Regions from separate parts of the Homo sapiens genome. Here regions 2, 3 and 4 are each linked to region 1. Evidence: fine-mapped expression QTL. A gene starts in region 1. Each other region holds a variant in brackets. All regions are shown on one strand. Distances are between the middles of the regions. Region 1 holds the start of TREML4 (triggering receptor expressed on myeloid cells like 4). Region 2 has its middle 20 kb from the start of NCR2. Region 3 has its middle 2.9 kb from the start of NCR2. Region 4 has its middle 2.4 kb from the start of TREML2.

Region 1 (2,686 bases):
GGTGTTCCATATGGACTTCCCTCTGGGGACACCCTCCCATCATCGTGAGAACATGGCGATCTTCTGATCACATCAGATAGTGCATGTTTCTCTCCCTAAGAGACAGTGGGCCCTGAAGGTAGCTTCCCACAAGCCCAGGCCCCAAGAGATCAGTCCTCAGAGGCAGGCCTCCCTGGTTTCCCCTTCCCTGAATCTGAGGCTCCCAAGCTGCCTGGTGACCCTTCTAATCTTCCCCCACCGAGGCCTCCAACCTACCTGTGCTTGTTGGGAGCCAGGGAAGAGTCCACATAGGAGACGTGGTTGGGGCTAAAGAGAAAAGACAGCAGACAATGACTCTCCAGGGGCCCAGAAGAGAGTAGGGTCTACCCCATACATAAGAGGAGGTAGGGGCCCAGAGCCAGACCCTCAGGATGTCTTAAGCCAGGAGTGGTCTGTGCCTAAGATCTGCATGACAGAGTTGTTGGTGTGTGTGTGTTAGTGTGTGTGTGAAAAGAAGAGTTGTGGGTGTGCCTGTGTAAGACAAAGAGAGACGCAGAGTGACAGACAGACTGTGTCTCTGTCCAGGGACCTCTGAGGGTACCTTCCCAACAATTGAGGCCAGGATGTACCGGGTGGAGGAGAGGTGAGAGTCCATGTTTGGGGACAGGATCTTTGCTCCCCTTGGACCACAGCAGAATACCTGGCAGGATGGGGGATGATAGAGGCATGGGAGGGGGTGCATGACATTTCCTTCAGGTCCCTGGGGGGTGGCACAGAGGTATTTCCTCAAGAAAAGAGCTCACCTGGAGACACCACCAGGCTGATATTTCTAAGAACAGTGATGATGTTTTCGGAAGCGTTGTAGATTCCACACCAGTAGAATCCCGAGTCATTCTGTGTCAGCTGAATCATGGTGATGTTGAAGAAGCCAGCATTGGGCTTGTCCCAGATTGTGTAATGAGACTTCTGAACTGCTGTCCAGGGCTTGGAGCTGGTGACAAGTAAGGTACACCGACTTGGAGATGTCTGCTGACACCAGGATTTGGGCTGATAGGGCCCTCTCTTGGGTGAGTACTGGCATTGCAGGAGGAGGGTCTGTCCTGGGTGTTTGTGAAGTTCTTCAGGCACAGCACCCTTTACCCAGGAACCGGCAGAAAGAAACCCAGGTCAGAGCTCTGAAGGGACCCAACCTCCCCCATCACAGGCTGGGGAAGGGGAGGGGGAACTAGTTCTGATGCCCACACATGGAAGAGGGCCCCTAAATTCTGTCCTATGGTCACACAGCCATGCTGCTCCCTGCCCCACTCATTCTTCATCCCACTCCTTACACCCCCTGCACTCTTTCCCTCCATGTCACCTGAGGCCAGGAGCAGCAGCAGCACAGGTGGAAGCAGCAGGTGTGGACCCCACCCCAGGCCATTCCAGCCCAGATCTGTTTCTGACAGCGGAGGAGAGGAGAAAAAAGGGAGCCCTCTCAGGAGGAGTCAGACGCTGGGTCTGATTCTGCCCCAGGTTCCCAGTGTCTCTCAGCTGGTAAAATTGAGGAAGTCAATGTCTTGCTGGGGAAATGGTCGGCCTGGGAGGGCGGGCTCTGCAGACCAGGGGAGGAGGGGCAGCCAGGCCTTGAAAGGGGCCACCAGCTACAGGGTCTGTCTCTGGGCCTGGGCACCTCAGCCCTGCTGTGTTGCTCTGCCGCCTTTCACTGAACTTCTCCCCATGTCTGCTGCTTTATGCCTTCCAGCCAGTCATACTGCTCCTCTATTGCTAGGGGCAGCTCTCAGCATGGCCAAGAATAAAGCTGGTGAATAAAGCTGGGGTCATCCCTCTTTCCTTCTCTCTGTGCACTTCCTATAGGTGGTCAGGGCCCTTGGAGGCACGACCAGACCCCTGAATCCTTCTGGTCTAGCCATGGTGGGTTGATGATGAGTTTTGACCCTGAGACATTTTGTAGAGGGCAGATTTTAATCCCAGGAATTACAAGATGTTCCCTGGAAATGGTGGGGCCAGGAAAGCAGGGAGGAAAGAGAGTGCTGGTCAGGGAAAGTTGGAGGGGAAGGCAGGTAGGAGTGGATCAGTTATGGTAGCTTGGGATCATCTCAATCAGTGCTTGTTGGATGAATACATCAGTGGATGAAAGAACAACGCGTGTGTAAAATGTACAGAAAAAGAAAATGGCCGAAGTGAGAACTATCTAGCAACAAAACCAAGTGGTACTGGATTACTACCCAATGTATATATTAAATCTCTAGGAGTCCATGCTGATGTAAGTAAATGACTGAATAAAGAACTGGGGGGGGGAATAGACAAATATCCCATGCATAAGGATTCTGCTGTGTTCAGAATGTTGTTCCCCCATCTCATATATTCAAACTTAATTTCCATGTGATAGCGTTAAGAGGTGGGATCTTGTGGGAAAATCTTAAGTCATGAGGGCGTCATCCTCAAGAATGCAATTAATGCCCTTATACCAGAGATTGCAGGAAGCAGATTTGCGCTGTCTGCCATATGAGGACAGTGTTCATGCCTTCAGTCAACTGAGGTTACTGCAAGAAAGCACCACCTTGGAAGCAGAGAGCAGCCCTCAGCAGATACCACATCCACTGACACCTTGATCTTTGACTTCCCAGACTCCAGAACTTTGAGAAAGAGATTTCTATTATTTAGAAAGTCTCCAGTCTAAGGCATCTTCTCATAGCAGCCTGAAGGG
Region 2 (2,686 bases), 87 kb before region 1:
GACTTTAAATTCAGAAAAATTACTACAACAGACCATGTATGGAAAATTTTCATGCTGCTGCTGTGTGGGTCACTTGGAGAATTCACTGGAACACCTGATGATATTTCCAGAGACATTCAAACTGCAAGCCAGGAAAATCCATCAGGTTGCAATTGCCATCCTCATTCCATCATCTAAAAATGCTTCAAACTCAAATTTAGAAATCTTGACAGGCTGCTCTCTGGACTTAAAGACTAAGATCATAATTTGTTCCTAATGTTAACCTTTTTTTTTTCTTTTGTTTTTATAGAATGCTACCTTGAATTCCCTTCAAGCAATACTATCTGAAATAAACAATTTAACCTCAATAGTACTCCAAAATAGAAGTCCTTGATACCTTAGCAACTTAACAAGGAGGCTCTTATTTGTAAAAAAAAATATTGTTTCTATATTAATAAATTAGAAATTGTTGAGCCCAATTTAAAGGATCTTAAGGAACAAATATGTCTTTTATCAGACAGGTGTTGCCTCCTCCACTGATTTATTTTATTGGTGAAATATTGGCTCCTGGGAATCTGTGCTCCAGGGAATTTAAAAATCCTTGGCTATTATTCTCTCTGTAGTCATTTTGTTTACCATCCTACTATATCTTATCCTCTCAAGGATTTCAAAGCTTTCCAGAAGGCACTCACACATCAAATGATTGCCATCATCATTAATTGACTTGAAGAACTCAACAACCCTACCACTGAAGCCCATGATGCAGGTAATGATGCCATGTAATCTTATATCCCAATACAACTGTTGAGGATAAGATTACATGACTCTTTGTTCCAGTGACTATTTCACTAGTGGTAACTGAGAGGAATGCTACCACCTTCTTCTTAGCTTGCTGAGAGGGTGACCCAACGCGGTGGGATTGTTAAAGTAAATTAAAATGGAGACCAGACCTGAAGAATCCCAGAGGGGACAAAAGAAGTTATGATTTGTAAGTGACCTAAACCTTGCTTGATTTGCAAACATAACCAAACTTAACTTGAGCTATTTCTTGTGAATGCCTATATATATCTATATCTATATATATATTTTTAAAAGCAGAACTTAAGCTCAACCAATCAGAAGTTACTATTTATACAAACTTAGATAACGAGGGGCTTTCCAAGTTGAGAGACCAAAAAAAGCAATTGTATAACAGTAACCAATTAAATACTTTGCTTTACTTCTGTGTCTGTCTTATAAAAGTCTCCTCTTTGTGTTCCTCAGTGGAGCTCCCAAACTATTTCTGGTTCGGAGCTGCTCAGTTCATAAATTGTTCATGCTAAAAAAAA[C/AC]TCACCAAAACTCTTTAAAATTTTACTGTGCCTCAGTTTATCTTTTTAACAGTTCAAAAAAGATTAAAATAAATGATAATTATATTCTGTCCTGGAGAAGTAGGGAAAAAGTCATTCTTATGCATTGTTGGAAGGGAATAATTGATAGCCTTTTCTTGGAGAGCAGTGGTGTAATGAATTAAAAGTCAGAACAAGAAAAAACAAACAAACAAAAGCACATGTTTTGGAACCAGCATTTCTAAGTTTTGTTTTTTTTTTTCTCAGCAAGTATTTTGTTGAGCATCTTCCTAAAAAGTCATGCCTGCAGCCTTTTTTTGCCCTGTATGGATGCACTGCCTCCACCAGTTGGTACACAGCTGTCTCTTCCTCATGTTTCTGGGGCTTCTCTTTGTCTCCTCTACAACGTTTTCTTGATTCTTGGATCTTTGTTTACTCCTTTGTACTGGTGGAACCCATCCTTGAGTAACTACGGGAGAAAGGGGGAATGGAAAATACATTTTGACAACTTTTATATTTAAAAATGCCTGTTTTACCATGACAGTTTGACTGATATAAAAAATTCTGAGTTGGAAACAATTTGTCCTCAGGATTTTGAAGGCATTGCTATGTTACCTTCTTGCTCCTATTGTTGTTGAAAAGTCAGGAGCAATTATGATAACTATGGCAATATGTGATCTGTTGTCTTCACTTTATCAGCGTTTTCTTTTTGTTCTCGGTGTCCTGGAATGTCACAGGGATGAGCCTTGGAGTGTGTCTATTTCCATCCCTTTGCTCCGCACAGTGAGTGGCCTTTTCGATCTAGAAATTCACAGGAAAATTTCTTGAATTAGTTCATGCATGATTTTCCCCTCTCTGTTTTCTATGTTCTGTCTTTCTAGAACTCCTTTTATTCAAGCATTCACCTCCTGGATCAGTTGTCTTTTTCTTTTTTTTTCTCTCCCATTTCTCTGTTGTTCTCATTCTCTCTCTGCCTCCCTCTGTTTTGGAAACAGCCCTTGGAGAAAAAGTTTTCTGTTTTTATTTATGGTTCCTTAGGTGGTCTCTGTTTCTTCCCAGTTGCCTTCACTATTCTCTGTTTAGTTTCTTTCTTCTCTTTCACTTGAGAGCTTTTTCTCAGGCCTGGGTAACAAAATTCTAAAGATAATTGGATGCTGTGAGCCCACAGTGGGGCTGGTGCCCTGGGAGTTTCACAGGAGGGTGACTCCTTGGCCATTTGCTTGAGGAAGTGCCTTGTCAATATCATTCAGCCTTCTCTCTTGGGCTGCTCAGGATCCCCAGGGAAGACTCACCCCATCTCTTGTCTGGAGGAAGAAGATCTGGCTGCCAACTTTCTGGAATCCAAATAGGAGAAGAGGGCTGGAGTGTTTCTCAGCTTCTGG
Region 3 (2,686 bases), 100 kb before region 1:
GTCTCTTCAGCCTGCAGCCAGCTCTGTATCGTTCTCTGCTGTGTCAGAGTGTGTCGTCTCTCCCCAGGGGACAGGAGCTCTCAAAGCGGGGAATCTGCCCCTCTCTCTGTGTTGTGGCTTCCCCACCTGTGTGAGTGGGGTGGGCACCCTCCACATAGACTTGGGGCCTTGAGCACCCTAGGGGGAGGCCCCTGCTGGAACCATCTGCACGCTCAGCTTCCTCTGGCATCTGGGACCTGGGGGCAGGGAAGCCTGGGCTTAGGCAGCCCCTCATCCAGGCTGGGACTGGCCCTGCTCCCTGGGGACCCACAACAGCCCTTGTCACAAGTTGAATTTCTGCAGGAGGGACTGGGGCAGGTAGCTGTGGTGGGATCTGGGGCCCTTTCAGAAGTCTCTTGAAGAGCTAGGGATAGTGCCTCCCCCTTGGCACGATCAGAGCAGGGCACAGCAAAGTCCTGTCAAAGAGCCTGGGGTTCTGGGGGATTCTGGGTTCCCTGCCCACCCTCTGAGAAGGTCCCTCAGAGAACTTGGGAACCTCAGCAACCTCCTCTCCCAAACTCATTGTCACACACACTCACAGGAACCCAGAGAAGGAGCTGGGAGAGCTGGAGACTTCATGTACTTGCTTTTCTAGCAAGGCCCAGTCTAGCCTGCAACAGTGGCTCCGAGCCTGGGTAGGTCCATGGGAAGGGAGGGCTGGCCTCTGATGCAGAAATGGGGAAAGCAGGGAGCCGTAGAGGTCTGGAGGTGATCCCCAAAACGCAGCACAGGGCTAAGCTAGGCTGGGCAGGGGTGAAGGGGTAGCTGTAAATTTCCCCCATGATAGAACCAGAAGTAGCAGGGACAAAAGGGAATTTCTCTCAGTGCTGATTTCACAACTGAGGGAGATGAGGTCCAGAGAAGGCAAGTAGCCTTTCCACAGTCACTCAGCTATTTCAGGGCCAAACCAGGACTAGCACCCAGGCCTCCTCTCTCCTGACCTGGTGCTCCTCCTGGGCTCAGAGATTCTCCATGGGCACTTCCTTACTCTTCATCCAGGCTTGCCTTTTGCAGATCCAAGGAGTCTTCTCCCTGAACCCCAACAAGTCTGCTTATACCTCTGACCCCAATGGCTCTCTGCCCCAGCTCCAGCAGGATCCTTCAGTCATCAATTGCCCTGACAGGGTTATTCCTGCTCCCATGACAATGGTCCCATAACAATGGCCCTTCCTGGTCCCAGGATGCCAGGTTCAAAGCATCTGGTCTCAGAGCAGCTTTTTCCCTGCCAGAGAGGTCAGAGGGACCTGAGCTACTGCCCACACAAGGCTGCAGTCTGGGCGCACAGCTCCCTCACAGGAAGTTCAGGGTGGGTCAGGCACAGAACCAGGCTTCCACCCTAAGCACCCTGCGGGAGGCCTGGGCTCAGGGAGTGCAGGAAGCAGCCATCTCCCCAGCTGGGTTCTCCCTGCTTCTTCTCCTTCCTTACTCCATGGAACCAACCCCATCCTCCAACCCCCTCACCCCGTTCAGCCGCCCCCAGGGCCC[C/T]GGTCTCTGTGCTGCCTGGTGCTGTCAGCCCTTCATGTGCTCCCGAGCTGCAGGCTGGAGCAGGGGGAGTATGGCTGGGTTTGGCCTGGGGCCAGAGAGGAGGAGCGAAATGGAGCACAGTGGGGACAGCTGTGCTGGTAAAGGTGGTCAGCCTCAGAAGATGAGACAAAAATCAGGGGTAGGGTTAGAAAATTATGTTTAACATCGATTTCAATATCCTTTGGCCGTCATCTCTGTTTGCTCATTTGCTTATTACAGGCCAATCAAGATCCTTGCCTTTAAACTCTCAGGCCCTCACCCAAGTGCACCCACACTCACACAGACACTCACTCCCTCCTTCAGCACTCCCTCCTTCAGCAGACCACTCTGCTCCATAGAAACCAGCCCCAAGTTAGGGGGTGACAGAGCTGGAGAAGGGCAGTCCTGGAGAGGAGCAGGGCCAGGCGGTGCACACACTTCACGAACACCCTGGGGGCAGCAGCTATGGAGGTCTCTGAAGGCTTCAGCTCAGCACAGGCCGAGGGGCGATGCTCAGCTCTTGCCACTCTGGGACAGCTGAGATAATGAGTAAGGAAGGGGCCATCCAGTGCCTGCAGAAGACACCTACCAGTACCTAAATCCCTGCTGTGGTGGGACCCTCCCACATTGCTGTCCCCAGCCCCTCTGGAACACTCCCTGTGCATCTGATCCAACGCCCCAAACAGGGGAGACCAAACCCAGTTCAGCCTCTTTGCCCAACCTGAGAATCTTCCTCCTCCATGATCTCCCCTCTTGCTTTAATTTCCCTAAATCACTCAGTCACCACCACGGCCAGCTCCGGCTCCCCTCTGTCCCCGCTCTGTTCTGCCAAGTTCAGGCTGCCCAGCTCAAACACGTATCTGCACATCTGCCCTTAGCTGACTCCTCCCTTCAGCCTCCACCTTCTCAGGGGCTCCTGTGGACAGCTCCTGGGGGAATTCTCCCTGTGCAGCATCTTGACAGGGCCCCAGCCCTTACTCTCTCCGAAGCCTACTGGAGATCACTCTGCAGGGAATGCATTGCAGGTTCCACAAGGCCTGGCCCGGTGTGGTATCCCATCTCTGCCACCTCCATTTCAAATGCACTTCTGCAAGCCAAGAGAAGGCCCTACTGTCTGGAAAAGTAGGCCTTCTTCCTTCTGTGC
Region 4 (2,686 bases), 25 kb after region 1:
AGGGTGTAAAATTTGCAGCCACTTTGGAAAACTATTGGTAGTTCCTGAAAATGTTAAACATAGAGTTGCCATATGACCCAGTAGTTCTACTATTGGTTATGTACTCAAGAGAAATGAAAACGTATGTCCACACAAAAACTTGTACATGAATAGTCATAGTAACACTGCTTATAATAGTTGAACAGTGGAAACAAATAAAATATTTGTCAACTGATAAATGGTAAACATATATATCCATTCAGTGGAATATTATTCAGCCTTTAAAAGGAATGATGTATTAATACAACGTATAGCACAAGTACAGCTACAACATGGACAAACCTGGAAAACATGCCAAATGAAAGAATCCAGTCACAAGGAACACATATTGTTCAATTATGTTTTTATGACATATCCAGAATTGATAAAGGCATTTTTGATTGAAGATATTTTTGTCTAGAAAGACAAAAATATTAGTGGTTGCCTGGGACTGTAGGAATGGGGACTGTGGTAAGCTGATAAATGGTCTCTTAAAAGATATCTGTGTCCTAATCCCTGGAACCTGTGATTGTTACCCTTATATGGCAAAAAACAAAAAAAAAATGATCTTTGCTGATATGAGTGAGTTAAACATCTTGAGATGGTGAGATTATCCTGGATTACGTAGATGGGAACTAAATGCAATCACATGTATCCTTATGTAAGAGAGTCAGAGTGGGATTTGAACACAAAGAGGAGAAAGTGATGGGAAGATGGAGCAGAGGGAGACTGAAGATGCTGGCCTTGAAGATTGGAGTAAAACAGCCCCAAACCAAAGAATGCTGGCAGCTACCTGAAGCTGGAAAGGCAAGGAACAAATTTTTCCCTAGTGTCTCTGGAGAGACTGCAGCCCTGTCGACATCTTCATCTCAATACAGTGTGAACTGACTTCAGACTTCTGCCTTCAGAATGGCGAGACAATAACTTAATACTGTTTTAAGCCACCAAGTCTGCAGTAAACGGATCCAGGGAGTGCCTGCTAACGGGCATGGGGTTTCTTTGGGTGGGGAAATCCTGCAAAATTGGTGTTAGTTGTACAACTCAGTGAATATATTGAAAACCACTGAATTGTATGCTTTAGATGGGTCAGTTTTATATTATGTGAATTATAGCTCACAGAATTGTTGAAAAAAGTCATTGTGACCTTGGGTTAAGCAAAGATTTATTAGATATGACATAAAAATTGATTCATAAAAATTATATATTGGACTTCACCAGAATAAATCAACATAAAGTGCTTCACTTTTCCATTCTGGAAAGAGAGAAATGACAGGAAAAAACCCCACCAGATCAGTGTTTGTCTGGGACTGAAGGGATGACTAACAAGGAGCAGAGGAAAGCTTTT[C/G]GGGATGATGGCACTCTTCTCTGTCTCCATTACGGCATTGGATACAAGTCTCTAGAACTCCCAGAACTCGTCACTGAAAAGGGTGAATAGTACTGTATGTAAATTAGGCCTTAATTTTTAAATGGGAAAAATAAATATAAAGACAAAATACACTGCTGTATTAAATCAAATGATAGATGTAAAAGTCTAATGTATACGTATTTTTAATGATTTTGACCAATGCTTCCAAATTTCTCTTAAGAAAGATTGAATCCAGTGCATACTTCCTCGATCAGCGAATGAATGTTTGATTCTTTCTACCCTCATCAGCACAGTGATCCCAAGGGTCACACTTTAGACGATGATTGGCTCAGTGCTGGGCGCACTGTATCAGTTTCATAGAATCATGGATTCCAAGCGCATAAAGTCCCCACAAGAGATAAATCCCCCACTCCTGAAGCAACTTACTGTTCTGATGGGGGAAGGGATGGAGGAACTTACTGTGTGTGCTGGGGAGGGGAGATGGCCCCTGAACTCAGGGAGCTCAGGAAGTTCTGAGGACTGGGTGAGAAACATTGAAAAAGGAAGGGTGAATAAGGAAAACAAAACACGTCTGTGAGCTGAGAGGTCTCAAGTGACAATCGTGTCTCATTCCTACGCCCCCAGTGCCTACCTAGCCCCATGCATAGCAATGAGGTTGTGGGAATGAACAAATGAATGAATGAATTAATGAGTGAGTGAATGAGTTGAGAGACTACAAAAGCTTAGGGTCAGCCGAGATAGACTTCTTTGCTTGGAGCTTGGGGCTTCAAGGTCAATTTAAGATTGTGGCCATGCAAGCTTGAGGACTTTTTGCTCTGAGTCCTGTTAAAATTAATGAAAATGGAGACCAGGCCTGAAGAGTCCCTGAGCAAAAATTAAAAAAACAGTTAGGCCTCATAAGTGACCTCAACTTTGCTTGATTTGCAAATATCAGTGAAACTTAACACGAGCTATTTCTTGTAAATGTGTATATTAAGGAAAAATAGAACTTAAGCTCAACCAATCAAAAGAAACTTATATAATTAACTAGGGTCTTTCCAACAGGATAGGCCAAATAAGGGAACTATATAACTATAACTAATTAAATATTTTCTTCAGTTTACTTGTCCTGTAGGAGTCTTCCCCTTGCATTCCCCCAGTGGAGCTCCTCAACCTCTTCTGTTTGGAGCTGCCTGATTCATGAATTGTTGTTTGCTGAAATAATCTGTTTAAAATTTTATTGTGCCTCAGTTTACCTTTTGACAGTCCCATCTAAGGAGTAGAAACATGGCACTAGTGAGTAGGGGGAGCATACATAATCAC

What was found.
Region 2: its variant is fine-mapped to the expression of TREML4 in whole blood (INTERVAL, PIP above 0.99).
Region 3: its variant is fine-mapped to the expression of TREML4 in spleen (GTEx, PIP 0.98).
Region 4: its variant is fine-mapped to the expression of TREML4 in whole blood (INTERVAL, PIP above 0.99).

The regions. Positions count from the first base shown.
Region 1 is chr6:41,227,141-41,229,826 of GRCh38, reverse strand. It overlaps TREML4 (triggering receptor expressed on myeloid cells like 4), which reads right to left and starts at 1,478. Exons shown (of 6, transcript NM_198153.3): 1 at 1,337-1,478; 2 at 783-1,113; 3 at 256-306. The coding sequence starts at 1,399.
Region 2 is chr6:41,313,828-41,316,513 of GRCh38, reverse strand. No RefSeq gene overlaps it. Among named protein-coding and RNA genes, the nearest start is that of NCR2, 20 kb to the left of the region's middle. The variant C/AC (reference allele first, on the strand shown) is at 1,308.
Region 3 is chr6:41,331,327-41,334,012 of GRCh38, reverse strand. No RefSeq gene overlaps it. Among named protein-coding and RNA genes, the nearest start is that of NCR2, 2.9 kb to the left of the region's middle. The variant C/T (reference allele first, on the strand shown) is at 1,525.
Region 4 is chr6:41,202,232-41,204,917 of GRCh38, reverse strand. No RefSeq gene overlaps it. Among named protein-coding and RNA genes, the nearest start is that of TREML2, 2.4 kb to the right of the region's middle. The variant C/G (reference allele first, on the strand shown) is at 1,364.